Linked DNA regions of Homo sapiens. The protein of the gene in region 5 purifies or fractionates together with the protein of the main gene of each other region. This does not show direct contact. Each region holds a gene or a part of one and is shown on either strand. Other genes may lie near its edges. The genes, in order: CEP295, WDR62, SIX4, FOXP4, GOLGA6L2, MTFR1L and AKAP11.

What was found.
Region 1: the proteins of GOLGA6L2 (region 5) and CEP295 purify together in Homo sapiens (affinity purification with mass spectrometry; one large-scale study listed by BioGRID and IntAct). This does not show direct contact.
Region 2: the proteins of GOLGA6L2 (region 5) and WDR62 purify together in Homo sapiens (affinity purification with mass spectrometry; one large-scale study listed by BioGRID and IntAct). This does not show direct contact.
Region 3: the proteins of GOLGA6L2 (region 5) and SIX4 purify together in Homo sapiens (affinity purification with mass spectrometry; one large-scale study listed by BioGRID and IntAct). This does not show direct contact.
Region 4: the proteins of GOLGA6L2 (region 5) and FOXP4 purify together in Homo sapiens (affinity purification with mass spectrometry; one large-scale study listed by BioGRID and IntAct). This does not show direct contact.
Region 6: the proteins of GOLGA6L2 (region 5) and MTFR1L purify together in Homo sapiens (affinity purification with mass spectrometry; one large-scale study listed by BioGRID and IntAct). This does not show direct contact.
Region 7: the proteins of GOLGA6L2 (region 5) and AKAP11 purify together in Homo sapiens (affinity purification with mass spectrometry; one large-scale study listed by BioGRID and IntAct). This does not show direct contact.

The regions. Positions count from the first base shown.
Region 1 is NC_000011.10:93,727,682-93,730,858, forward strand, and holds the end of CEP295 (centrosomal protein of 295 kDa), read left to right. Parts: intron 1-999; coding exon 1,000-1,140; intron 1,141-1,752; coding exon 1,753-1,849; intron 1,850-1,929; coding exon of another isoform or gene 1,930-1,932; coding exon 1,933-2,100; intron 2,101-2,188; coding exon 2,189-2,288; intron 2,289-2,367; coding exon 2,368-2,467; coding exon of another isoform or gene 2,468-2,549; coding exon 2,550-2,588; coding exon of another isoform or gene 2,589-2,596; 3' UTR 2,597-2,677; downstream 2,678-3,177. UniProt on the Homo sapiens protein: Centriole-enriched microtubule-binding protein involved in centriole biogenesis.
Region 2 is NC_000019.10:36,099,897-36,102,752, forward strand, and holds part of WDR62 (WD repeat-containing protein 62), read left to right. Parts: intron 1-851; coding exon 852-979; intron 980-1,317; coding exon 1,318-1,421; intron 1,422-1,767; coding exon 1,768-1,878; intron 1,879-2,117; coding exon 2,118-2,255; intron 2,256-2,840; coding exon 2,841-2,856. UniProt on the Homo sapiens protein: Required for cerebral cortical development. Plays a role in neuronal proliferation and migration.
Region 3 is NC_000014.9:60,717,852-60,721,351, forward strand, and holds part of SIX4 (homeobox protein SIX4), read right to left. Parts: intron 3,294-3,500; coding exon of another isoform or gene 3,272-3,293; exon of another isoform or gene 3,257-3,271; intron 2,595-3,256; coding exon 1,909-2,594; intron 1-1,908. UniProt on the Homo sapiens protein: Transcriptional regulator which can act as both a transcriptional repressor and activator by binding a DNA sequence on these target genes and is involved in processes like cell differentiation, cell migration and cell survival.
Region 4 is NC_000006.12:41,594,881-41,598,380, forward strand, and holds part of FOXP4 (forkhead box protein P4), read left to right. Parts: coding exon 1-111; intron 112-2,295; coding exon 2,296-2,362; intron 2,363-2,900; coding exon 2,901-3,070; intron 3,071-3,500. UniProt on the Homo sapiens protein: Transcriptional repressor that represses lung-specific expression.
Region 5 is NC_000015.10:23,441,391-23,444,243, forward strand, and holds part of GOLGA6L2 (golgin subfamily A member 6-like protein 2), read right to left. Parts: intron 2,823-2,853; coding exon 2,772-2,822; intron 2,684-2,771; coding exon 2,387-2,683; intron 1,119-2,386; coding exon 1,060-1,118; intron 731-1,059; coding exon 589-730; intron 293-588; coding exon 1-292.
Region 6 is NC_000001.11:25,822,954-25,826,453, reverse strand, and holds part of MTFR1L (mitochondrial fission regulator 1-like), read right to left. Parts: exon of another isoform or gene 3,436-3,500; 5' UTR 3,350-3,435; coding exon 3,326-3,349; exon of another isoform or gene 2,848-3,325; intron 2,811-2,847; coding exon 2,706-2,810; intron 153-2,705; coding exon 43-152; intron 1-42. UniProt on the Homo sapiens protein: Mitochondrial protein required for adaptation of miochondrial dynamics to metabolic changes. Regulates mitochondrial morphology at steady state and mediates AMPK-dependent stress-induced mitochondrial fragmentation via the control of OPA1 levels.
Region 7 is NC_000013.11:42,303,152-42,306,651, reverse strand, and holds part of AKAP11 (A-kinase anchor protein 11), read right to left. Parts: coding exon 2,789-3,500; intron 1-2,788. UniProt on the Homo sapiens protein: Binds to type II regulatory subunits of protein kinase A and anchors/targets them.

The DNA.
Region 1 (3,177 bases), on a different chromosome or scaffold from region 5:
TGGGAAAAAACTTTTTTCTTCTAAAATTAGAGATGAAGTTCCCACTATGCTACCCAGGCTGAACTCAAACTCCTAGGATCAAGGGATCCTCCTGCCTCAACTTCCGAAGTAGTTTGGACACACCACAATGCCTGGCAGGAAAAACCTGAAACAAAATACAAGCAAAACTGCTTGTTAATATTGCTATCCAGCTTGTGATCACTAGAAATATCCAGCATAATGCAGAAACTTAAAAATTTGAAAACTGTCTTCTGAGAGTATTTTACAAAAGATCCTTTTTCTCCCAATTCAGATATCCTTTCTCCAACTTCCCTGAAAAATGGTGGTTCTGCCTGTGCTTCAGCACTTTCAGTGTTGAGCCTCATTCCAGTGCAATGAATTCATCCATTATTGGAATAAGTATTGGAAACCTGCTCCTCATATTAAGCAACTTATAATCTGCTTGCTTTCAACACCAGTCAACTGGTGACTGGTTTTCATCTAGCAGTATGTGCAGTTTATCCTTCCACAAATAAACATAACAGATTGAAAATAAGAATTACAACTAAACCACGTTTTATGTGGCTGCTTTTGTTCTTGTTGTGTTTAGATACTTTTGAAACATTATCTGTTAGCAGTCAGTGGCCCACATTTGGTAGCAGCCCAGTCGACCCCTGCTCCCTTTAAAGGATACAATTCGGCACAGCCAACCTGCATTTATATTTTTTGCCCAACACTACAAGCATTTAGGTTTGTAATCATTGTGGTAGATACCTTTCAGTCCATTGTCACACTATTTCATCCCCTCCCCAAAGTAGGCTCCAGTATTTCTACAACTGAATGCTGGAGTTATGGAAGCCTAAGGAAATCTGATCTGTTGGTCTTTGCCAATCATTGCTTTTCTTCCTCCATTTTCACATTTATATACACTTGCAAAAAATGTGCATTATATACAAAACGATTAGTTTAAGTCTTTTAAGGCTATTTTGACATGGTTTTCCTTTTAATTGTGGTTCACAGGAAACAGAAACTGGCCATGGTATAATGGAAGAACCAGAACTTACTTTAATAAGCACCACTGATACCAGTATTGCTGAAATGGATTTTGCAAATTTAACCCTAGAAGAGAAGAGCGAGAATGAAGCAAAATGCTTCTTTCAGGTAAATTTAAGCTTTCCTTCTATTTTATTCTATTACAAGCAAACCAGTTGATTTGTCTCTTACAACTTATCAGAAGGTACTCATTGGAGGGAATTATGCTATGCATTTAACTAAGCCGACACCCCCACCAGCTCTCAATTTGTCTTAAACCTTCACTATTCTGTCAACCATTGTGCATTTTCTTTTAATCCCCACTCCAATTTATGCCTGTCTCCAAGACTGGCAGAACTAATCTTATACACCTAGTGTTATAGTGCCAAGTTGGAAGTTTTACCTAAACTTATTCCCAGATATTGAAAAATGACTTCAGAACAACTGGTAATTTTACTAGGGGAGTAGGGAGGCAATAAGAATAAAGCTATCTAAACAGAGGCCTAGAGGTGTGAGGGCAGTGGAGCCTAAGCCCAGTTCAAGACCAGCCTGGGCAACAAGGCAAAACCCAATCCCTACAAAAAATACAAAAATCAGGCATGGTGGCGGGTCTCTGTAGACCCAGCTAAGATTGAGGCTGCAGTGAGGTGTGATCATGCCGCTGCACTCTAATCTGACAGCAGAGCAAGACCCGCTTAAAGCGTTTAAAAAGAGTAAAACATGCAACTTTCTTGCCATTAGGTGAGTGAGTTTCTGCCTCTTGTATCAGCAACAGAAGCCTCAGATTATCCAGCTGTATCAGAACTTTCCATAGAAAAACCAAGGACAGCATCTACAGGTAAGCCTTGGACGGCCTCCACACTTCTAATGGAAAGTAGATACTTTGCCTATTTCTGTCATAAATTTCTTTTCCCCCAGCAGAAACCCCTCGCAGGCTTACACCTGTACCAGGGAGCTTACAAGAAGCATTTATAAAGAGGAAAAAATCATTTATGGAGAGATCCCACCAGAGGCAGAAAGAAATAAGGAATAAAATTCATGTCTCTGAAAATTCTCAAATCAAAACAGTTAAAGAGAAACCATCTATAAGTATGTTGAATTTTTAAAATCTTCAACCAACTCCCTGAAATGTTTAAAGCCTTGTGTTTACAACTTGATTTCACTTTTCTTTCCTCAGGTTCATCTGTGAGTCGTCTAAAGGGCGTGAATAAAGTCAGAGCATCTTTTCCTGAAGACAGAAAGACTACACAGGCTCTAAGGCACCAAAGGGGTCTAAGGTAGGGTTAATTTTTTTTTTTTTTTTAGTGATTCACTTTTTGCAGTGTTTGTCTCTAATTCTATATAAATTCTTTACAGGTTATACAATCAACTAGCTGAAGTGAAACAACAAAAGGAAGAAAAAACAAAACAAGAAGCTTATGCCCAAAACAGAGCAAGGGCAAAAGAATTCCATAAGGTGAGTATAACTGAGGGAGAAGGACTTAATTTTTCAAGCATGAAGTACACAACTGAAACTCAAATTTTTATTCCTTCCACAGAAAACACTAGAGAAACTTCGAGCCAAAAATACATGCTGACTTTCTAGAAATAGTGTAAAGGTTTTTTAATTGTGTATATGTAGCATTAGACAAAATTATTTAAAGTCAATAAATTGTTATTCGAGGAATTCCATGTTGTGATTTCTTCCACTGTCCATCAAGGTCACTTTAGATCCTCTAAAGAGCTGGAGTCAAAAGATTTATCTTCAAGTTTGCCCTGAAGAAGAGAAATTTTGATTAACCTTTAAAACTCTCACATGGCAACAATCCTGGATTATTACGTTTTATATCTCCTCAGGAAAACATAGCACCAAACATTAGGAGTGCTATGGCTTCCTATAGAGAACTTCCATCTTTGGTCACAGCGTTAAGAGCTCTGGGTTTCACAGCCTCATAAGCCCTCTTTGAAATGACCCATACAAATGTCTTTTCTAATGCATACATACCTTTTTAATGAAACTGATCCAGTTGTCCTGTCAGCCCTACATAACAATAGTATAAAAGTAAATTTTACATTTCCAGAGATGAGTGTACAGTGAGTGAACATGAATGAGTCCCTAGAACGAGCCTGAGTTAACTCTACTACAAACTGCTTGGTTATTAGCAACCCACAAGGGTTACAATATAA
Region 2 (2,856 bases), on a different chromosome or scaffold from region 5:
TTCCTGTTGTGTGACCTGGAGTAAGAGGCTTACCTCTTTGGGCTTCAGTCTTCTAAAAAGTAGTCATAATGGGGTCAGGGGCAGTGGCTAACACCTGTAATCCCAGCATTTGGGGAGGCCAAGGCAGGAGGATTACTTAACGATCACTTGAGGAGTTCAAGGCCAGCCTAGGCAACGTAGCAAGATCCCACCTCTACAAAAATATTTTTTAAATTTTTTTGTTTGTTTTGTTTTTAAATGGTAATAACAATCTCTTCTGCCCCAGAGGGCTTTTACAGGAATCCATGCTTAAGTATAGGGCCTGGGCTCTTAGAGGTGCCCGTGCAACTTTAGCTCTTTCTCTACTATTTTCCAAACAAAATTCATTTTTATCCTATCCTATAATTTGTCATCTTCATTGTGGTATAATATACATCCAGTAACATGCACAGATTTTAGGTATACAGCTTGATGAACTATCTGTGTAATTCACGTGTGTCCACTACCCTGGGCAAAATCTGGAGTGTTTTCTACCTCATAGAAACCCCCTTCTGCCCTTCCCAGTCAGGTCCCCGCACCAGGATAACCAGTGTTCTGACCTCTCACCAAGGACTGGGTTTCCTATTCTTGAACTTGATATAAATAGACACGTAGAGGGTTGGGCCTCCTATTTTTGGTGCCACACCTCTTCCTCATCTGTAAAGGGACTGATAATGCAGGGGCAGACCAGGACAAGCTGGTTGCGAGTGGAGGGCATGGCACAGGCCCTGGTTCACAGCCTCCAGCAGTGGGGCTGCTGGCATGGTTCCTGGCGCACTGTTGGTGGCCCCAGCCATGCCTGCCTCAGAATGGCTGTGCTGTCTTCCCCATAGTCAGAGAGTCCCCAGGAAGCTGGCCGCGGGCACCCCTCCTTCCTGCCCCAGCAGAAGGAATCATCTGAGGCCAGTGAGCTCATCCTCTACTCTCTGGAGGCAGAAGTGACAGTCACAGGGACAGACAGGTGGGTGTCCTTTCCACCAAGGGAGCCTTAGTTGGAGGAACCCCCAGCTGATAGCTGCATCCTGGAAGAAGTGCTCTCTGCCTTCCCAGTGGGCTTGTGGGAGTGGGGACAGTTGAGGCCTGGATGGGGCAGGAGCCCAGCCTTAGTTCCCTGGTTCCAGGTGGGGTACAGGAGGGCCTGACCTGGGGGAAGGAGGGGGCATTTGGAGGAGGCGGGGAGGCTGTCGCAGTGCTCCTGCAGGAGCAGCGGGTACAGGTGCCTAGGGGCTCCGGGTGGGGCTAGCTGTTGAGTCTCCAGCTGAAGTCCTTGTTCCCTCTCTGCCCCCACTGGCACTGCAGCCAGTATTGCAGGAAGGAGGTGGAGGCCGGGCCTGGAGACCAGCAGGGCGACTCCTACCTCAGGGTGTCCTCCGACAGCCCAAAGGACCAGAGCCCGCCTGAGGGTGAGTGCAGGGCAGGCAGGGACCCTGTGACAGTCTGTGCGTTCAGCCAAGCCCCTTTCTGGGCACCGATGGTGACTTTGACCCAGTACTGAAGCTCAGAGTCTGTCGAGGAAGACACATGTGGTCCCTGCTGCTGCCTGAGGATTCTGGGCCCAGCTGCCTACAGCTGAGAGCCCAGCTCTGCCACCTCCTTGATGTGGAACTTCCCTTATTCATAAAATGGGGGGCAGCTGCTCTTACCATCCCTCCTCCAGATGGGGAAACTGAGCCCAGGGAAGGGTAGCCCTGGCCCTGGCTCACCAGAATGGTCAGGCTGTGGGCTCCTGACCCCGACTCTGTCCTTCAGACTCGGGGGAGTCAGAGGCCGACCTGGAGTGCAGCTTCGCAGCCATCCACTCCCCAGCTCCGCCTCCTGACCCTGCCCCTCGGTTTGCCACGTCGCTGCCCCATTTCCCAGGTAAGCAGGGGCCAGACACGCAGGGGACTCGCTGCTCGGGCCTGGCTTAGGGCCAGTCACAATGTCTAAGCACAGGCCCTGCACTTGGAGCCCACTGAGCCTGGAAGACGGGGATCCCTGCTTCTCAGCCTGCGGGCAACAGGGCAGGGATGGGTGGGGCCCGCTTTCTCCATTTCAGGTGGCGTCTGCTGTGACTCATGGTGTTGGCTCCTCTTGTCCCTCCCCTCCTTCCCTGTCAGGATGCGCAGGTCCCACAGAAGATGAGCTGTCCCTGCCCGAGGGACCCAGCGTCCCCAGCAGCTCCCTACCCCAGACTCCGGAGCAGGAGAAGTTCCTCCGCCACCACTTTGAGACACTGACTGAGTCCCCCTGCAGAGGTAGGGCCCTGCCTCACCCACACCTGCCGAGGCCGTCTGTGCAGCCTGGGCACAGCATTGGCGTCCCTGGAGTTGGCTCCCCAGCAGGGCCAGGAGGGTGAGTGGAGAGCAACTGCTTCGTTTTTTTTGAGACGGAGTCTCGCTCTGTTGCCAGGCTGGAGTGCGGTGGCCCAATCTTGGCTCACTGCAACCTCCGACTCCCTGGTTCAAGCAATTCTCCTGCCTCAGCCTCCTGAGTAGCTGGGATTATAGGCATCCACAACCACGCCCTGCTAATTTTTTGTATTTTTAGTAGAGATGAGGTTTCACCATGTTGGCCAGACTGGTCTCAAACTCCTGCCTCAGATGATCTGCCCGCCTTGGCCTCCCAAAGTGCTGGGATTACAGGCGTGAGCCACCGTGCCCGGCCCACTGCTTCACTCTTGACCTGAGCCTCACGATGCCTCCTCACCCACTGCCCCTGCTCGTACCCTGTGTCTGTACATAAGGGTTTCTGGGGAGTGCCCCGCTGGGCTGTGGGCTGGCCTAGGGCCAGGGCTGCTCGGCGGGAAGGGTTATGAGGGTCCCCTCGGGATCTTCCCCTAGAGCTCTTCCCCGCAGC
Region 3 (3,500 bases), on a different chromosome or scaffold from region 5:
ACACACGAAGATTAGCCGGTCATGGTGATGCACGCCTGTAGTCCCAGCTACTAGGGAGGCTGAGGCAGGATAATCACTTGAACACGGGAGGCAGAGGCTGCAGTGAGCCGAGATCGCGCCACTGTACTCCAGCCTGGGTGACAAAATGAGTCTCCGCCTAAAAATAATAATAATAATAATAATAATAATCTTAGTTGCTCAGACTGTAAAGTGAGTAAAAGATGTAGATATTCTACTTTTCCACATAAATCCCAACTATAGAAAGATAAGTCTATCTTGTCAAGACATTTTAAAGAATGGCTCAGTATCTGTTTGTGAGAAAAAACTGAATCCCCAAAATGTTTTATTGAGAACTGCAATACCTAACTACCATAGAAATGTTGCTTACTGGATTAAACTTAACTATCTGGTTAAACTTAGACTGTCTGTTCAACTCACCCAGACAGTCTAAGATTTGATCTTACTTATTTTAACTGAAAATGCTATTCTTATTCCTATTAAATGTCCCATTTAAAAACTCAGCTATTAGTTCATAATAATTTTCTATGGCAGTGCTCCTCTAGATTACACAATTAAAAGTATTTCTACTTTTCTCCTCCCCCAACATACATAACTCATTCTTTCTGCTCAAATTTGTTGCCTTTAAAATGTGACCTGTTTGGAAATTTTCCAAATGAGAGAAAAGGGGTTAGATCCACATTAAATTATTATCAAACTAAGCACTTTGGCTTTCCCTGTGGTTTTCATATTTTTGCCCTATGTTAGATAGTAACTTAACTCTTTCCATAACTTGGAACAATGATGAACTGAATAGTATGCTGCAGGAATGTCTTGTTTTAGTACCATTTTGCCTAAAGAAATGCAAATGTACAGAATGAAATTTAGAACAATTTTTCCATTAATTCCTTCAATAAGCTGACATAGACCATAGTTGTGGTAACAAGAGAGTTGTGCATAAATTGATTTTTTTGGGGGGGTGGTAAAACCATCTTATAGGAAGCAGACCTTTAAAGCCAACAATTACTACTTTGGTTTTGTAAAAATCTGGATTTTCAGATTTGTCTACAAGAAGGCAAACGTGCATTAAGATCTACCCTTCCTGAATTCAAGGGATTATGCAAACTCCACTGCCAAATTCTAACCATTTCTATTTCTTTAAAGAGAAAATGACATAGAGGATCCAGGCTTGCTTAAAGTCAGTGAAGAACTAATATATCAGCCTCAGTTTTCCTGAATTTCATTTAAGTGCTTTCTCTGGAAGATTGCTGTTAGTAAAGCCACAAACATATAAAATAAGGCTTACTATTATCTTCACAAATAAACCCACACATTTAGGGGGTTAGTATATATGCTGAGCGATAGAAATCCAATGGCATATTCCTCTGATTTTCTTTTAGGTCTGTTAGTCTTCATTATAGGAGGAAACAGGATTCAAACATAATTGATCCGGTCTTTTTAGCTTGTTCTTCTAAAACATTTTTTGGTCAAATAAATAATGCTTAGGTAAAGTGTATGCATTCTTACCAACTGCTAGACTAATTTTGTGTTCTTAGCAATTTTATTAATTTTTAATATTAAAATGCCAAGCAGTGAGTTATTTTGTAAGCACTGATTGACTTATCATATTTCTGTAATTGTAGAACTGGCAGGACTTGCTATGAACTGTATTTTTCCATTCAGTTGTTAGTAAAATAAAAGCCCATCCTCATGATGCAAGGGAATAAAGCAACCTGGATATGACATGGGTATTGTGAAAGAGGAGAATCACATCAAGGCTACTCTACAGCTTCGGCAGCTAATAAGGTACCTGAACAGAAACATCAATCTATAGCTATCACCAAATGCGTCACTTACAGCAGCTGATGAACACATTTGCTGGTGCATTAAGGTACCAAATGAGATTGTTACCTTGTGAAGCTGCCACTGACACAGGGGGCAGCTGCAGTGGAGAGAATCCAATGCTCCCATTAAGGAACTGGCTGTTTGCTCCGGAATTGGGGATCTGGACAATGCCATACTGGTTAATTTGCACTGGTGTAGTAAAAGTCACTACAGACCCTCCATCTTGGGAAGCCACTGTTTGAATGCCTTCTCTTTTCACCTCAGTGCTGGGTATCAGGCCTGGGAATGAGACAGGGACACTGGGGCTGTAGGACGTGGTGGTTGCTGAGTTAGCAGAACTCTGGAGGACTTTGAATTCCTTCACGTCCTGGGAAGTAGACCCCAGTATGTCAGTCATGGATATACCATTGCTCACAATGTTTGATGACATTTTTGGTGGGTTCAATGCCACTGCCTGTGTATTTCCCACATTTAATCCATTAAGGATAACTCCACTGGGTCCCTGAATAAAAGAATTTCCATTAAGGAAGACAGGTGAAGTACTTGCAGGTACCAAGCTTCCATTCAACAGAACTCCAGAAGAGCTTAATGATATCTTAGCATTTCCAATTTGTTGCATATATACTGGCTCCATATGACTGGAAAGGCTGAGGTTGGTGATGCCATCAGATGAACTGGAGAGTGGGTGAGGAGATAAATCCTCATGTCCCTTGCTGGATTCATCTTCAGTGCTGGGGTTGCCATCTGACTCACTGTATGGAGGGGGAAATCAAAATGTTCAGAAGGTCAGGGGGATGACATTCTACACAGTGCCACTTGTTTGGAAAACCAGCTTCTAAATCCATTAAAGGCAGTATTTAAGGAAAGCACAGCAGGATATCTGCTAGTCCTATTTAAACTAAGAGGCCTTTCAGCAGATTCCGACCAGCCAGAGAATCTGGGAAGATAAACTCTCAGATCCCAATCATTTAAAATAACAATAAATTCAGGGAAAGTCCAGACATCTGCAAGATGTAAATTCAGCATTACAGGAGAAGAACATATTTGATTTTACAGTGTAGAAGTGCTATTCCTTACTGTTACATATGCTGCTACTGACACCATAGAAAAAAACACCTTAAATGAGGTGGTCGGTCTTTCCTGTTTAGGAACTCCTTCCCCTCCCCTCAAACCAATTCAGATTAGTGTTATCTTGGAGGTAAATGAAGCTGCCAAAGGAGCAGGAGGTAGGAAGTGCTCAGCTTTTCTTTTTTGGTCAGTTAGTTAACAAGAGATCGTTTTCTCACCTGCTCCCAAACTTCTACTCCACCAGACTGACAACTCTCTCATTCAACAAAGTGGCTGTCCTTGTTGTAGGAAAAGGCACTTTCAACCCAAGAACAGTTATGTGCAGTCGCCTTTGAATCCAAAGGAAGCCAAAGGGGCCTATTTAACAAACACCATCCAGTGCCCTGGTGAGGTGGGAGGGAAAGGGTGTCACTCAGAGGCCTTCTAACTATTAGACCTCTTCCCCAACGTCCTTGGTCCCTCTGTTCCAGGCAGGACCCTGTTCCTCAGCTCTCTGACTTGGGAGAAATACCAAATCGGGGTTGGGGGGTGGGTAGTGATGGGGTTTCCCATTTGGTCTGAGGCTGGGAGGGAGAGCAAACGAGAGCAGA
Region 4 (3,500 bases), on a different chromosome or scaffold from region 5:
CCACAACCTCAGCCTGCACAAGTGCTTCGTCCGCGTGGAGAACGTCAAGGGTGCCGTGTGGACTGTGGACGAGCGGGAGTATCAGAAGCGGAGACCGCCAAAGATGACAGGGTATGTGGGTCCAGAGCTGGATGGGCTGTACCTGCCCAGGGGGCAGGAGCCAACTCACCCCCACCCCCTACCTCTCCAGGGTACACATGTGCACCAGATCCTTCCTGGCTGGGGGAAGGGGTGTGGGGAGAAAGGAGCAGAGGAGACTAGTGCTTGGGGACAGGGGGCTGGAATCCGGAAGTGATGGATAATCAGAAGGCAGACATTTATGTCCTCTTCTGTCCTCACTCTGACTGAGGGAAGGGGCCAAGAAGGAGGCCTGGTAGCAAAGAGAGACAGGGGCCCCAAGTAGCCCTGGCCAGAGCTGGCACACAGGCAGATGCCAGCCAACGGGCCATGGGTGAGGGGCTGCCACCCCCAGGGCACCCGCTCTCTCAGCTCATCAGGATGACTAGACCTCTGAGGTCCCGCGACCCCACCAATTCATCTTACGGCAGAGGAGAGCCAGTGAGGGCCAGGGGCTGGCAGGAGGCCCCAGAGCAGATTTGTGGCAGAGCTGGTTCCAGGACCAGGTCTCTGCCCTCCTGGTCTTTTGTGCTCAGCTTCACTTCACCACCTGGCATTTTATTTATTTACTTATTTATTTATTATTTTTTTAATTTTATTATTTTATTCATTTATTTTTTTTGAGAAGGAGTTTTGTTCTTGTTGCCCAGGCTAGAGTGCAATGGCACGATCTCAGCTCACTGGAACCTCCACTTCCCGGGTTCAAGCAATTCTCCTGCCCCAGCCTTTCGGGTAGCTAGAATTACAGGTGCCCACGACCACGCCCGGCTAATTTTTTTTGTATTTAGTAGAAATGTGGTTTCACCACGTTGGTCAGGCTGGTCTCGAATTCCCAACTTCAGGTGATCCACCTGCCTTGGCCTCCCAAAGTGCTAGGATTATAGGCGTGCACCAGCGCACCTGGCCTATTATTTTTTTGAGACAGAGTCTTGCTCTGTTGCCCAGGCTGGAGTGCAGTGGCACGATTTTGGCTCACTGCAACCTCCACCTTGTGGGTTCAAGCGATTCTCCTGCCTTAGCCTCCCGAGAAGCTGAAATTACAGGCGCCCACCACCACACCCAGCTAATTATTTTACTTTTGGTAGAGACGGGGTTTCACCCTGTTGACCAGGCTGATCTCGAACTCCTGACCTCAGGTGATCTGCCCGCATCGGCCTCCCAAAATGCTGGGATTACAGGCGTGAGCTACCGCACCTAGCCTCCACCTGGCAGTTTAAACAGAAACTGAGGAGCCTGGGACAGGGTCAGGACCTCCCTTTGGCTTCCACGTAGCAGCAGTGGCCTTCTCCCGACCTCAAACAGCCCCACCCCAGCCACCTGCTTGCTGTGCCCCTTGGGCCAGAGCCCCTGGGTAAGGAGAGGAGAGCAAGTTAGATGGATGTCTCTGAGGTGTGGGGTGTCTGCTCCCCTCAAAGATGCCTGCTTACCAGGCAGGAGCCTTTGCACCCCAGGCAGTGTGCAGCCTGGAGAATGGAGGGAAGCCATCCCCTGGTGAATGCCTAGGGGCCAGTCTCCAGGCCTGGCTGCGCTTGCACCTCTGCTTCTCACCAGTTTGGTGACCTTTGGCTGTTTCCTTAAGCTCTGTGAGAGCTCTGTGATGGTGTCATCACTGGAAGAGGGACAGCCCCCAGCCACTGCTTTTCCTGTCCCAACTCCCGAACACCTTCCCGTGCAGAGAAGCCTTCTGTATGGAGGCTTCCATACAGAAGCCTCCATGTGGGACAGGCTGAGCATATGTCTGACATGTCCCAAAATCTAGGATGGCAAGACAGTGTGGGCAGACCAGGTGTGTAACTACTGAGACTATAGATTAGACCTTGCCAAACATTGGAAAATCTAGACCGGAGAGAAAACGGGTGGGGGGGCAGCATGCTGTGAAGGCAGACACTGGGGGGATGCCAGTTCCCACTTCCCAGCTCCGAGACCTGGACAGGTCCCTGAACCAAGCCCATCGCACCCACCTGTGAAGGGGCTGCTCCTGCAGGGCCAGTTGAGCGTGAAGACCGAATCAGACCAAGTACACACACAGCTCCAAGACAGCGGCTGATCCGCCCTGGCCTCCCGGAATAGGGAATGGGACCCATTCCCAGCACAGGCCGTTACTTAGTGAGAGTAAAGAGATGCGAATGAAGAGCTAAGTGAATGAGTGAGCCAAAGATGGCCTTCTCTGTCCTCCAGGAGCCCCACCCTGGTGAAGAACATGATCTCTGGCCTCAGCTATGGAGCACTTAATGCCAGCTACCAGGTGACCTGCCCAGAGCCCACCCACTCACCTCTACCTCCCGCCCCCTTGCTTTCTCATACAAGAGACCCCCATCCTCCCCTGCAGAGGACTCACCAGAGGAGGGAAGGAGGGTGAAGACCCAAACTCTCCGAGACCCCACCTCTCTGCCCCACCCCAACTCGGGGCCAGCCTCCACCTCTGCTTTCAAGGCTGGGTTCAGACAAGGCAGGCAGCTGGGAGGATGGCATACCTATAGCATCCCCTTTCCTGGTTTGTCAGTCTGGGGGTTCTCTGTTCCCTGGGAGAGGGGATAAGCCAGGCCCAGGTTCCAGGAAAGCTAGGAGGTAGGAGGTCGGGGGGTCAGAGTTCCAGCCATGGGGGAGGGGTGCTACATTCAAAGGCTGAGTTGGGGCTTGGGGGTTGCCCAGACAGATCCGCCCGTGGGGCCAGTAGGCAGACACACAGGCAGCTCTCTAGTGGGCGGGGAAGGCACAGCACTTGACTGAGTGTGCCCCATCCTGTGGAGCCACTGACGAGGCCCAACCCTGTGCCCCTGCAGGCCGCCCTGGCCGAGAGCAGCTTCCCCCTCCTCAACAGCCCTGGCATGCTGAACCCTGGCTCCGCCAGCAGCCTGCTGCCCCTCAGCCACGATGACGTGGGTGCCCCCGTGGAGCCGCTGCCCAGCAACGGCAGCAGCAGCCCTCCTCGCCTCTCCCCGCCCCAGTACAGGTGAGCACACAGCACGGACCCCCACCCACCCCAGCACCCCTCAACCACCAGGGAGGAGGCGTCATCCCCCACCCTGGGTGGGGTTCCCCATCCCACCCCCACCACGCCTCTCCCCAGGACAAGTGGCTTCTCTCTTCCTTCCCTCAGCCCTCTCAGCCCTCCCTTGTCCCACCTGCCTGTTCTTATCCCCTCTCCCCACCTCCCCACCTTCCCACCTTCTCCTCCCCATTTTCCCCCTTTCTTATTTTTCCTCCTCCTCTCTTCTCTTTTTTTTTTTTTTTTTTAAGACGGAGTCTCGCTCTGTCACCCAGGCTGGAGTGTAATGGCAAGATCTTGGCTCACTGCAACCTCTGCCTCCTGGGTTCAAGTGATTCTCCTGCCTCAGCCTCCCAAGTAGCTGGAATTATAGGTGCCTGCCACCATGCCCAGC
Region 5 (2,853 bases):
CCTCCTGCTCCCACATCTTCTCCTCCTGCTCCTGCATCTGCTCCTCCTGCTCCCGCAGCTTCTTCTGCTCCCGCAGCTCCTTCTCCTGCTCCCGCAGCTCCTTCTCCTGCTCTCGCAGCCTCTTCTCCTGTCTCCGCATCTTCTCCTCCTGCTCCCGCATCTTCCCCTCCTGCTCCCGCAGTCTCTCCTCCTGTCTCCACATCTTCTCCTCCTGCTTCCGTATCTTCTTTTCCTGCTCCCGTAGCTCCTCCTCCTGCCTCCACATCTCCTCCTGCAAAGTGTTGGTTTGAACCTCAAAAGGAAATAGACTTATGAACTAGCTATATAAATGTAATCTATAAAATAACAGTTTTCATCTATGATTCTTTAAAAAAAATTTTTAAGCCTTAACACTGAGGTTCTGATTTCCCAGGCAGGGCCCCAAATTTGTAGATTTTTAGCACACTCTAGAGGATTCTATGGTGGGACCAGAACAAGGACCCAAATTTTCCAGCTCTTGGCTGGACCCTCCCCATACCTTGCATGATCCCTAGACCATGGTCCTAGCTGGATGGGTCTCCCACAACCCCTGGGGCTGCAGCCGCTCACCTGTGGCAGCAGGAACTTGGCCCTCTCCAGTTTCCTTTTTAGCTCCTTCACGTTGAGCTGGATCTCAGACTTTTCAGATTCTGCAAGTCGAAGTTTTTCTTGTAGTTCGGCATTTTTCTTCTTCAGCTCCTCATTGGTTATGCTATGGCCCGAGGCAGTAGAGAAAGGAATGAACGAAGAACAGAAAGGACTGCTTTGGTGATCAACCCTCTACTCTCGCCCCACAAGCACAGAACCGTGGCACTGGAAGGGACCCCAGGAATTAAAAGTCCCAGGTGGCAGGCCAGAGAGAAGACATGAGTTGCCTGAGGCTACCCCATGAGTCAGTGGCACAGCCGGCACTAGAGCTTCCCTGTGCACACATGTAAACCTGTATGACCCCCTACCATGCTCACCTGTACCCCCCACCTCCCAGCACACCACCCACGCTAAGGGCCCCCAGACCTCCCATCCCACCTTCCCCCATCCTACGTGTTCCTGTACAGTTCCAGACTCAGGGCGTCCCTCTCCTTTGTTAACTCCTCGATGTACTGCAAATAGAGAAAGGTTAAGTCAGGACAGAGCAGGCAGAAGAGCAGCTGGCCGACCAGGAACAACAGCTACACTGATACTCCACAGTAACACTCCCTCACTCTCCATCACACCCGACATGTTCTCAAGGCAATTCCAAGCCCATGGTCTCATTTTTTTTTCTTTTTTTTTTTCTCCTTTTCTTCTTTTAGAGATGGAGTTTTGCTCTTGTTGCCCAGGCTGGAGTGCAATGGCGCAATCTCGCCCCATGACAACCTCTGCCTCCCGGGTTCAAGCAATTCTGCCTCAGCCTCCTAAGTAGCTGGGATTACAGGCATGCGCTACCACACCTGGCTCTCACTTGTTTTTCAGAGAACTCAGTAAGGGTAGAAGGGACAGGGAAAGAGACTGAATTGATAGCTGGCTAACAGGGGCCCAGAGAGATCAGATAATATTGCTATTGCTATTACTGTTATTACTGCCACTGTTGGAACCTTTCTTGAGTGCTTCACCAGGCACTATGCTAACAATCCCATTTAATCCTCACAACCTCCATAGGAGACGGTTACCATTATTACCTCTATTGTATAGATGCAAAACATGGGGTATTAAAAGTTAAATGGTTGCCTAAGATCACTTTGACAGAGCTGGGATTTCAACACCCAGGTGTATCTGATTCTCTAAGCCCATTCTTTCCCTGGGGGTAGGGGCACAGATAAGAAGGAGGAAATTAATCCTTTGTTGACTTTTTGAAAGAACGATACATTGGCATAGTCCAAAACTCAGAAGGTAGAGAAGGGAAATATCTACCCCACACACACTGTTCCTGTCTCCTGAGTTTTTTATGAATCCTTACAAATATGTTTTTATGTATGTTACCATAATACGTACACACACACACACACACACACACGCACATGCACACTTATGTGTGTTCCCTCTCTCTACACAAATGGTAACATACTAAAGATACTCTTCTGTACCTTCATGGTACAAATACCTTAACCCCTGCCTAGGACTTGGTCAAGGCCACAGCCAAGTATGGGCAGGGCAGGCTCTTGGCCTTGGAGCTCTGTGTCCAGTGCTCGCTCCCCACAGTGCCCCCCAACTCACCCACAGCAGCTGACTCAGCCCCAACCTGCCTCTAATAACCACACACAAAAGCAGCAAGAAATGACCCATACTATCTTCTGGGCAGGACACTGCATCCTGCAGGAGGGACCTTTAGGCTCATTCCTCCATCTGCGAAGCTGGGATCCCAGGAGACTGGGGAGGTGATTGGACTTACCCTGTCTGCCTTCTTGTGCCATGTGGACACAGCAGAGAGAGCCCGCTGTAACTCTCCTGCAAAGTGCCAGGAATGATGCAAGCGGCCGGCGAGATCCTTGGACTCTCCTGGAATGAGAGAGGTTGAGACACAGCCCAAAGGACTCCCCCTAAAGGCCTGTGAAAGTGCCAGGTTGAAGGATGATGGGGTGCCCAGGTTCCCATCTTCAAATTTCCTGGCAGCATCCTGGCTGTAATAGAGCGCTGTCTCCAGTTCAGTTTTCTGACACGTGAGAATTCGTATTGTATGATCCTGGGCCTTTGGGAGAAAAGACAAGCAAGTGCTGAAAGAGAAGCAAAAAAACCTTCTCCAGAGGACAGGAGGGAACTTCACACCCTCCACTCACCTCTATCTCCCGCCTTAGGGCTTCCTGATGTTGGTGGCTTGCCTTCTTTTCCTATAGAAAGAGGAAGACAGAGCTCTTACTA
Region 6 (3,500 bases), on a different chromosome or scaffold from region 5:
AAGTTCTCCATTCCTTAGCAGACCAGCTACTGCCTCAACTACCTGACCCGGGCATATGTCTCCTCTTCATCCGCAGCAATCCAGGCGATGTCAGCCAGGGTAGGGACTGGGGGCACATCTCTCAAACACAGGTCAGAGATGTTGGGCAGGGTCTATGGAGAAGCAAAAGTCATCAACATTTACAGATGCCATGATGAGCCAATCAGAAACTGCAGAATACACAGGAGGGGTACCTAATCCGGCACTGGGTGTCAGGAAGGCTTCCTAGAGGGGGCAGAAGAAGGTTCCTGGTCGAAAACATTGAACAGAGGCCAGATGACAGTCAGGCATGGTGGCTCACACCTGTAATCCCAGCATTTGGGAGGCCGAGGCAGGCAGAATGCTTGAGACCAAGAGTTTGAGATCAGCCTGGGCAACATGGCAAAACCCTGCCTCTACCAAAAAATACAAAAATTATCTGGGTATGGTGGTATACGCCTGTAGTCCCAGCTATTCAGGAGACTGAGGTGGGAAGATGGCTTGAACCTGGGAGGCAGAGGTTGCAGTGAGCTGAGATTGCACCACTGTACTCTAGCGTGGACAACAGAGCCACATTCAAAAACAAAAACAGGCAAGACACATGAGAGTCTATGGGATTACAAACAGTTCTGTGTCTTCAGTGGAAAAGGCCTGAGTCACCTTTTAGTAGAGATGGCAACTGTCTAAAACCACTGTGCCCTCTGGTGAAAATACAAGTACAAGGTCATCCACAACCTGTTACAGCAATAGGAAATTTTTCCTGACTAGCTTTTTATAATCCTGTATAGCTAATTGAGATCTACATTGTTACAGCAATGCTGTTTTAAACAAACCTGAAAATTTGAATATATTTAGATTTAAATAAAAATAAATGATTATACAAAAGGAACCATAATAGGATTTCTTAAAATAGCTCCTCAACCTAGAGATGTTGAGTAAAGTGAAAAATTAGGATTCAGTCATGTTGACTGTGATTACAACAAAGTAAAAAACATCCATCTAGAAAAAGAGGACTACACTAAGACATTAATAGTTATTGTATTATTACTATGTAATTATAGGTAATTTATTTTCCTTTTACTTTTCATAATTTTAATATTTTCATATGCTTAAATTTTCAAAATAAATTGGTAAGAGTCCCTTAAATAATATTTAAGGTAATTTAATAATAATAATAAATGCATATTTACACACAAGTAAGATTCAACTGTTTCTGCTACAAATTATTTGGTATGGTAGATGGATCCAGGATTGATCGCTCCTGCATTTAGATAGGAAACCTGGGACTCACAGGAGTTAAGTGATACTCCAAGGTCACACAGAGAAGAACTTCCAGTGACCCAGGAACTAGTGCTAAAATAGGGCATTTGGGGGAAGCCTCCATTTGTTTTCCTGATTAGCCCTGAATGCTCCTTTGCTCTTGGCAATTAAATGAGTAAACAAATATAAAGTACAGCACAGTGCCTGACACATAGTATGTGCTCAGTAAATGTTATCTAGTATTACCAATACTGCTCACATACATTCCTGCTCTGTGAGAGCCTGTGCCCTTGATTGTCTCTGCCCAGCATCTGGCCAAAGAACTGAAGAGGGTATAGCCAAGTGTGGGGACGGCCTCTATGCAGTGAGCCACACTCCCTAGCTGTCTCCCTTTTTTTTTTCTGATGCTTCTGAGGCAAGTTAGGACCAGTTCCTGCCCAGGATCTTTAGACAATTCTGGATAGCTGGCAATCTGAATACTGGGACAGCTTTTCCTGCCCCCTACCCCTGCGACACTTCCAACTCCATTCCTGACCCTAATACCAACCCTGACACCTCTTCTAATTCCAGATCCAGTTCCTACAGACTCTGCTTCTTAGCATCTTTTATACAGATTTGGCTCCTTCATTTCTGTTTCTACCTGGGCCCACATCCTTTCATGCACATATTTCTATCTCCTCTGTGTGGGTAGAAAGCACAAGTATTTCTTTTGTATCCCAGCTCTCCAAATGCACACATCTGAACCATATAGTTTGGGGCTGGTGCTTAACCATTTAGTTCCTAGAGGGAGGCAGCTGGGACTAATAAATGCTACTTAGCTTTCTACCACAGAAGGGGTCTCAAGAGACCTGGGCCAGGTAGGAATCTCTGCTGCTGAGTGGGTGCTAAAGGATCCCTAGACACAGAGGTAAGACCAAAGCACCCCAGTAAAGGATGCCCAGATTGGCCAAAAAGAGAAGGCTGAGGAATTATGGCCTCAGAGAAACACTAAAAATAGTGGAGCTGGGCATGGTGGCTTGTGCCTGTAATCCCAGCTACATAGGAGGCTGAGGCAGGAGGACTGCTTGAGCCCAGGAGTTTAAGACCTAGCCTGGGCAACATAGGGAGACCTCATCTCAAAAAATAATAAAATAAAAATACTGGCTACATGGTCAATTCTTAGGGCTGGTGAAGAAAAGCAGAGTTCAACTCAAAAATCACAATAGTCAGTGTCCCATGTGGGGGACCTGTCAGGTTCCTTGTGGTCACAGGTTTGTATGCACTCAGGAGGACACAGTGACCAGGATATCTTATAAGCATTTAACAAATATTTCATAACAGAATGAAAAGTGACCAGGAAACAACCTACTTGGGCAGTACCAAGGGGTTTGGGGCACAGAAGCAGCACTGTCTGAGCCTCTACTCTCCTGCCCTTCCAACATACTCACCTCAAAGGACGCCCGGGCACACGGCTTCAAGGGTAGGTTGGTCCCAATTCTTCTTACTACACTTCGAGCAGCCCCATGTGGCTTGTTTTGCCAGATTGGGATGGTCTGGAGCAAAGAGACGGAGACAGCTACAACCCCAGAGAATGAATCCAACTACTGTCCTTGTCCTCTCCTCTCTAGGTTTGTGGAGACTGAATTCCACAAACCTAGGGACAGGGCACTCTCTAGGGGCAAGTCAACTCTCAATTATAGTGAGGGCAGGTTCCCCAGTTGCCAGCCTACACCCTGGCCAGCCACCCAAGGGAATACCTGCTGCTGCTAAGGCAGTCAATGTTGGGAGGGTCAGGGAAGGGGAGAGGAAGTAGCTGAGTGTAGAGATTATCCAGGCTTTCCTTCCCGTCCTCTGTACAGAAAGGCAGACATACACTGACTCCTGAAGTGCCCCAGGATCATAGTTGGTTCTTCTTAGGGGGAGGGAGTGAAACGGTGGCCTTGCTCCAATTCCAGGCCTCTGGAGAAAGGAGTGCTCAACTGGAGAGTCTCAGAACCTTTTACAGTACTTCAGCAGGCCCAGCACCCAACCTTCCCCACCATACCCCTGCCCTGGGAATGCCCCTTACCACAGTGGCTTCCATTCCTGACATTTGAACCAGCTCCTGCACTTGAAGGACAAGGCAGCCACTGGGCAGCTCCGGGAGGCGGGAGGCGTGACTCCTTCATATCAGGCCATCTGGAGGAGCACCAGATTTCCCTCTTGTGAAACAACCCCCCACAGTGGGGATTTAATGGTCACCA
Region 7 (3,500 bases), on a different chromosome or scaffold from region 5:
GAAATAAAAAATGTTAAACGTAAACTCTACACACTAGAGTCAGCTTTCCTTAGTCAGTATTTACAGAACCCTAGCACAATTATTAAGAAGAGAAGCAGGAAAATAATTACTCCAGCCTTAATAAAAAGCTGAAATTGGACAGCACTGGCTTACAGGAAGAACTTTAGGGGCTATCTACTCACCCAACTCTAAGAAGGAAAAGTGGAAATTACTGAGAAAATCAATAACAAAGGCATTTGCTAGCCCCTGAGAGTGATGTCTTAAAAACTTTAGAGGACAGTCTCTTTTCTTCCCATGAGGGTGGGAGGAAAGGGGGATGGATGGGTCCGTAGGGCAGACAGGACTGAACTGAGGAGGAGTAAAAAGTAAAATAGCCTGAAGCAACCTGTATGAGGAAAATTATTTCAATTGTAAAAAGGCCTAATTTATTACCTATTCATGAGAATATTTATTAACAATTTATTATGTTTATTATCATACTAGGAACTGGTATGTAGTGAAAACGAAAATGTGGATCTAGGACAGAGGTTCGCAATTGTTTTCTGTAAGAGGCCATGATATGGTTTGGCTCTATGTCCCTACCCAAATCTCATCTCAAATTGTAACCCCCAGGGAGGGACCTGGTGGGAGGTGATTGGATCATGAGGGCGGCTTCCTCCATGCTGTTCTCATGACAGTGAGGGAGTTCTCATGAGAGCTGATGGTTTTAAAAGTGTCTGGCAGCTCCCCCTTCTCTCTCTCTCCTGCTGCCTTGTGAAGAAAACACTTGCTTCCCCTTTGCCTTGTGCCATGACTGTAAGTCTCCTGAGGCTTTCCCAGCCATGCAGAACTGTGAGTCAATTAAACCTCCTTTGTTTATAAATTACTCAGTCTCAGGTGGTATCTTTATAGCAGTGTGAAAATGAACTAATACAGGCCAAACAGGAAGTACATAGGCACTGCTGGTCATACAGCCTCTGTCCCAACTACTCAACTCTGCCATTATAGCACAAAGGCAGCCACAGAAATGTGTAATTGAATGAGCATGGTGGTGTCCCAATAAAACTTTATTTATAAATACTGAAATTTGAATTTCATATAATTTCCACATCACAAAATATCATTTGATTTTTTTCAACCATTAAAAAAAAACATGAAATCTGTTCTTAGCTTGCAGTCCATACAAAAACAACCAGTAGGCCACATTGGCCCACAGACTGTAGTTTGCCAACCCCTGGTCTAGGAGAAAGAAGGCTGCCTGATTAGGGCAAATAGAGACCTCTCCTAGTTCACCAGAAACCTACATCATCTCTCATCTCAAGTAGACGCTATGGAGCAATTGGATTCAAGAATCCTGGCCAAGCTATATCTCCCTATTTTAAGATGGATAAGAAAAGAGGCAGACCATGTCATGGCTTTAACAGAAGCTACTCAAAAATCTGGAATATCATGTGACTCAATTAAATTCCACCTCAACTTAAAGCATTTTCTCTTTCAAGCAGGACTTACAAATATCATCCTATCAACTAATAACACAAGTTGGTCCTGATATCTTCTCAGGGACAAAGAAGGTTTAAACTGAAAAACTGTAACTAAGTTGTTATTAAAGAATCACTGAGCATGGCTGGTTGCGGTGGCTCACGCCTGTGATCCCAGCACTTTGGGAAGCTGAGGTGGGCAGATCACCTAAGGTCAGGAGTTCAAGACCAGCCTGGCCAACTTGGTGAAACCCTGTCTCTACTAAAAATACAAAAATTAGCTGGGCGTGGTGGTGGGTGCCTGTAATCCCAGCTACTAGGGAGGCTGAGGCACAGGAATCGCTTGAACCCGGGAGGCAAAGGTTGCAGTGAGCTGAGATTGTGCCACTGCACTCCAGCCTGGGCAACAGTGCGAGACTCCATCTCAAAAAAAAAAAAAGAATCACTGAGCACAAGAGATAGCTACTGAAAAACAGGACACTGTAGGACTACCAGAAAGAACTGTCCTCTTAGATTGTGAACCAATCAAGAGAAATGGTGTAAGTATGTAAAGAATTTTCACTTTCTTCTTCAGAGTAGTTTAACCATGGTCTTTATAAGAAAACTTACCCTTGTGAATGAAGAAAGGTGTACAAAAATTTAATCTCAGAATAGTAAATTAATATAGTAATATTCTACATTTACTATAGAATAGTCCCCCCTTATCCATGGGGGATATGATCTAAGACACCCAGTGGATGTCTGAAACTGCAGATAGCATCAAGCCCTGTACATACCAGGTTTGTGGACCTGATAACTGAGATACCTTCTAAGTGACTAACAGGTGAACAGCACATGTAGTATGGATAAACTGGATAAAGGGGTAATTCACATCCTGAGTGAGATGGTGTGAGACTTCATCATGCTACTCAGAACATGCAACTTAAAACTTACGAATCGCTTATTTCTGGAATTTTCCATTTAACATTTTCAGATTGAGGAAAGCAAAATTGAGAATAAGGGGGGACTACTATATAAAATTCTCTAGCTATTTATTTAATTCAACTTTACCTATTTCATAGCTCTATGAACTTGGATAAGGTGATTATTTTCTCCAACCCTCATTTTCCAGCTCTGTAAATGGATAACACCTTCCCTCAAAAGGGATCAGGAGACCAAAATATATTAAAGTCATGTGTAGGATATGAAACAATACATAAATGCAACAGGGAAAACTTTTGTTTATGTAGGGTTAAAAATAATCATTCCTTTATGAACAGGACCTAAGACATATAGGATCACATTTATCTTTTTAATTTATCATTAACAACCAAAAGAAACGTGAAACTTACCTGCTAACAGCATGCCCAACATTTGTGACAGCTGCTGTCATGGTTTCTGTGGCAAGGCTTTCAGCAAAGCTGGCACCCTCCTGTCCGATCCCACTGTCGGCTGCCAGGCTGGTACTGCTCAGCTCTCGCTCAGCTTTTTCAATGGCTTCAGCAACTATCTTCTCAGCAAGCACTGCCTTCTTATCAAGATTAACATGAATCTGAGGGACACTGAGATGAAAAATCCTAGATTTCTGATAGCGGCTGCTAAATTTTGGATTAGAAGCTGGCTTACTACTGGCGAGAGAACCCTGTCTGAAAAAGTGCTGAGATGAATTTCCAGTGCAATTGTGGAGTTCTTTAAGGTCACAGTATCTGCAAGCTTGACCTGTAAGAGGTGACAACTTTTCTGCATAAGTGACCCTGTCTGCTGATTTTGTGGTCTCAGACACTCGGAACACTGTAGATCCTAGAGTTAGCTCTAGAGTGTCATCCACTACTTTTTTGGCATACTGTTCTACAGCTTGAACAACATTGTCTCCACAACCATATCCATTTAAACTGCCAGTGCTGTGGTAAAACCTGTGATTTTGTGAGGAAGGCTGAAGAGACTTAGGCAATTCTGGTGTAACGTGACACTCATTATCTTCTTCATATCCAGATTTTTCAAACAAGCAAGAATCTGTTAAGGATTTTGGTAGGCCAACTAGAGAGGCTGTCAACTCTTCCTTAG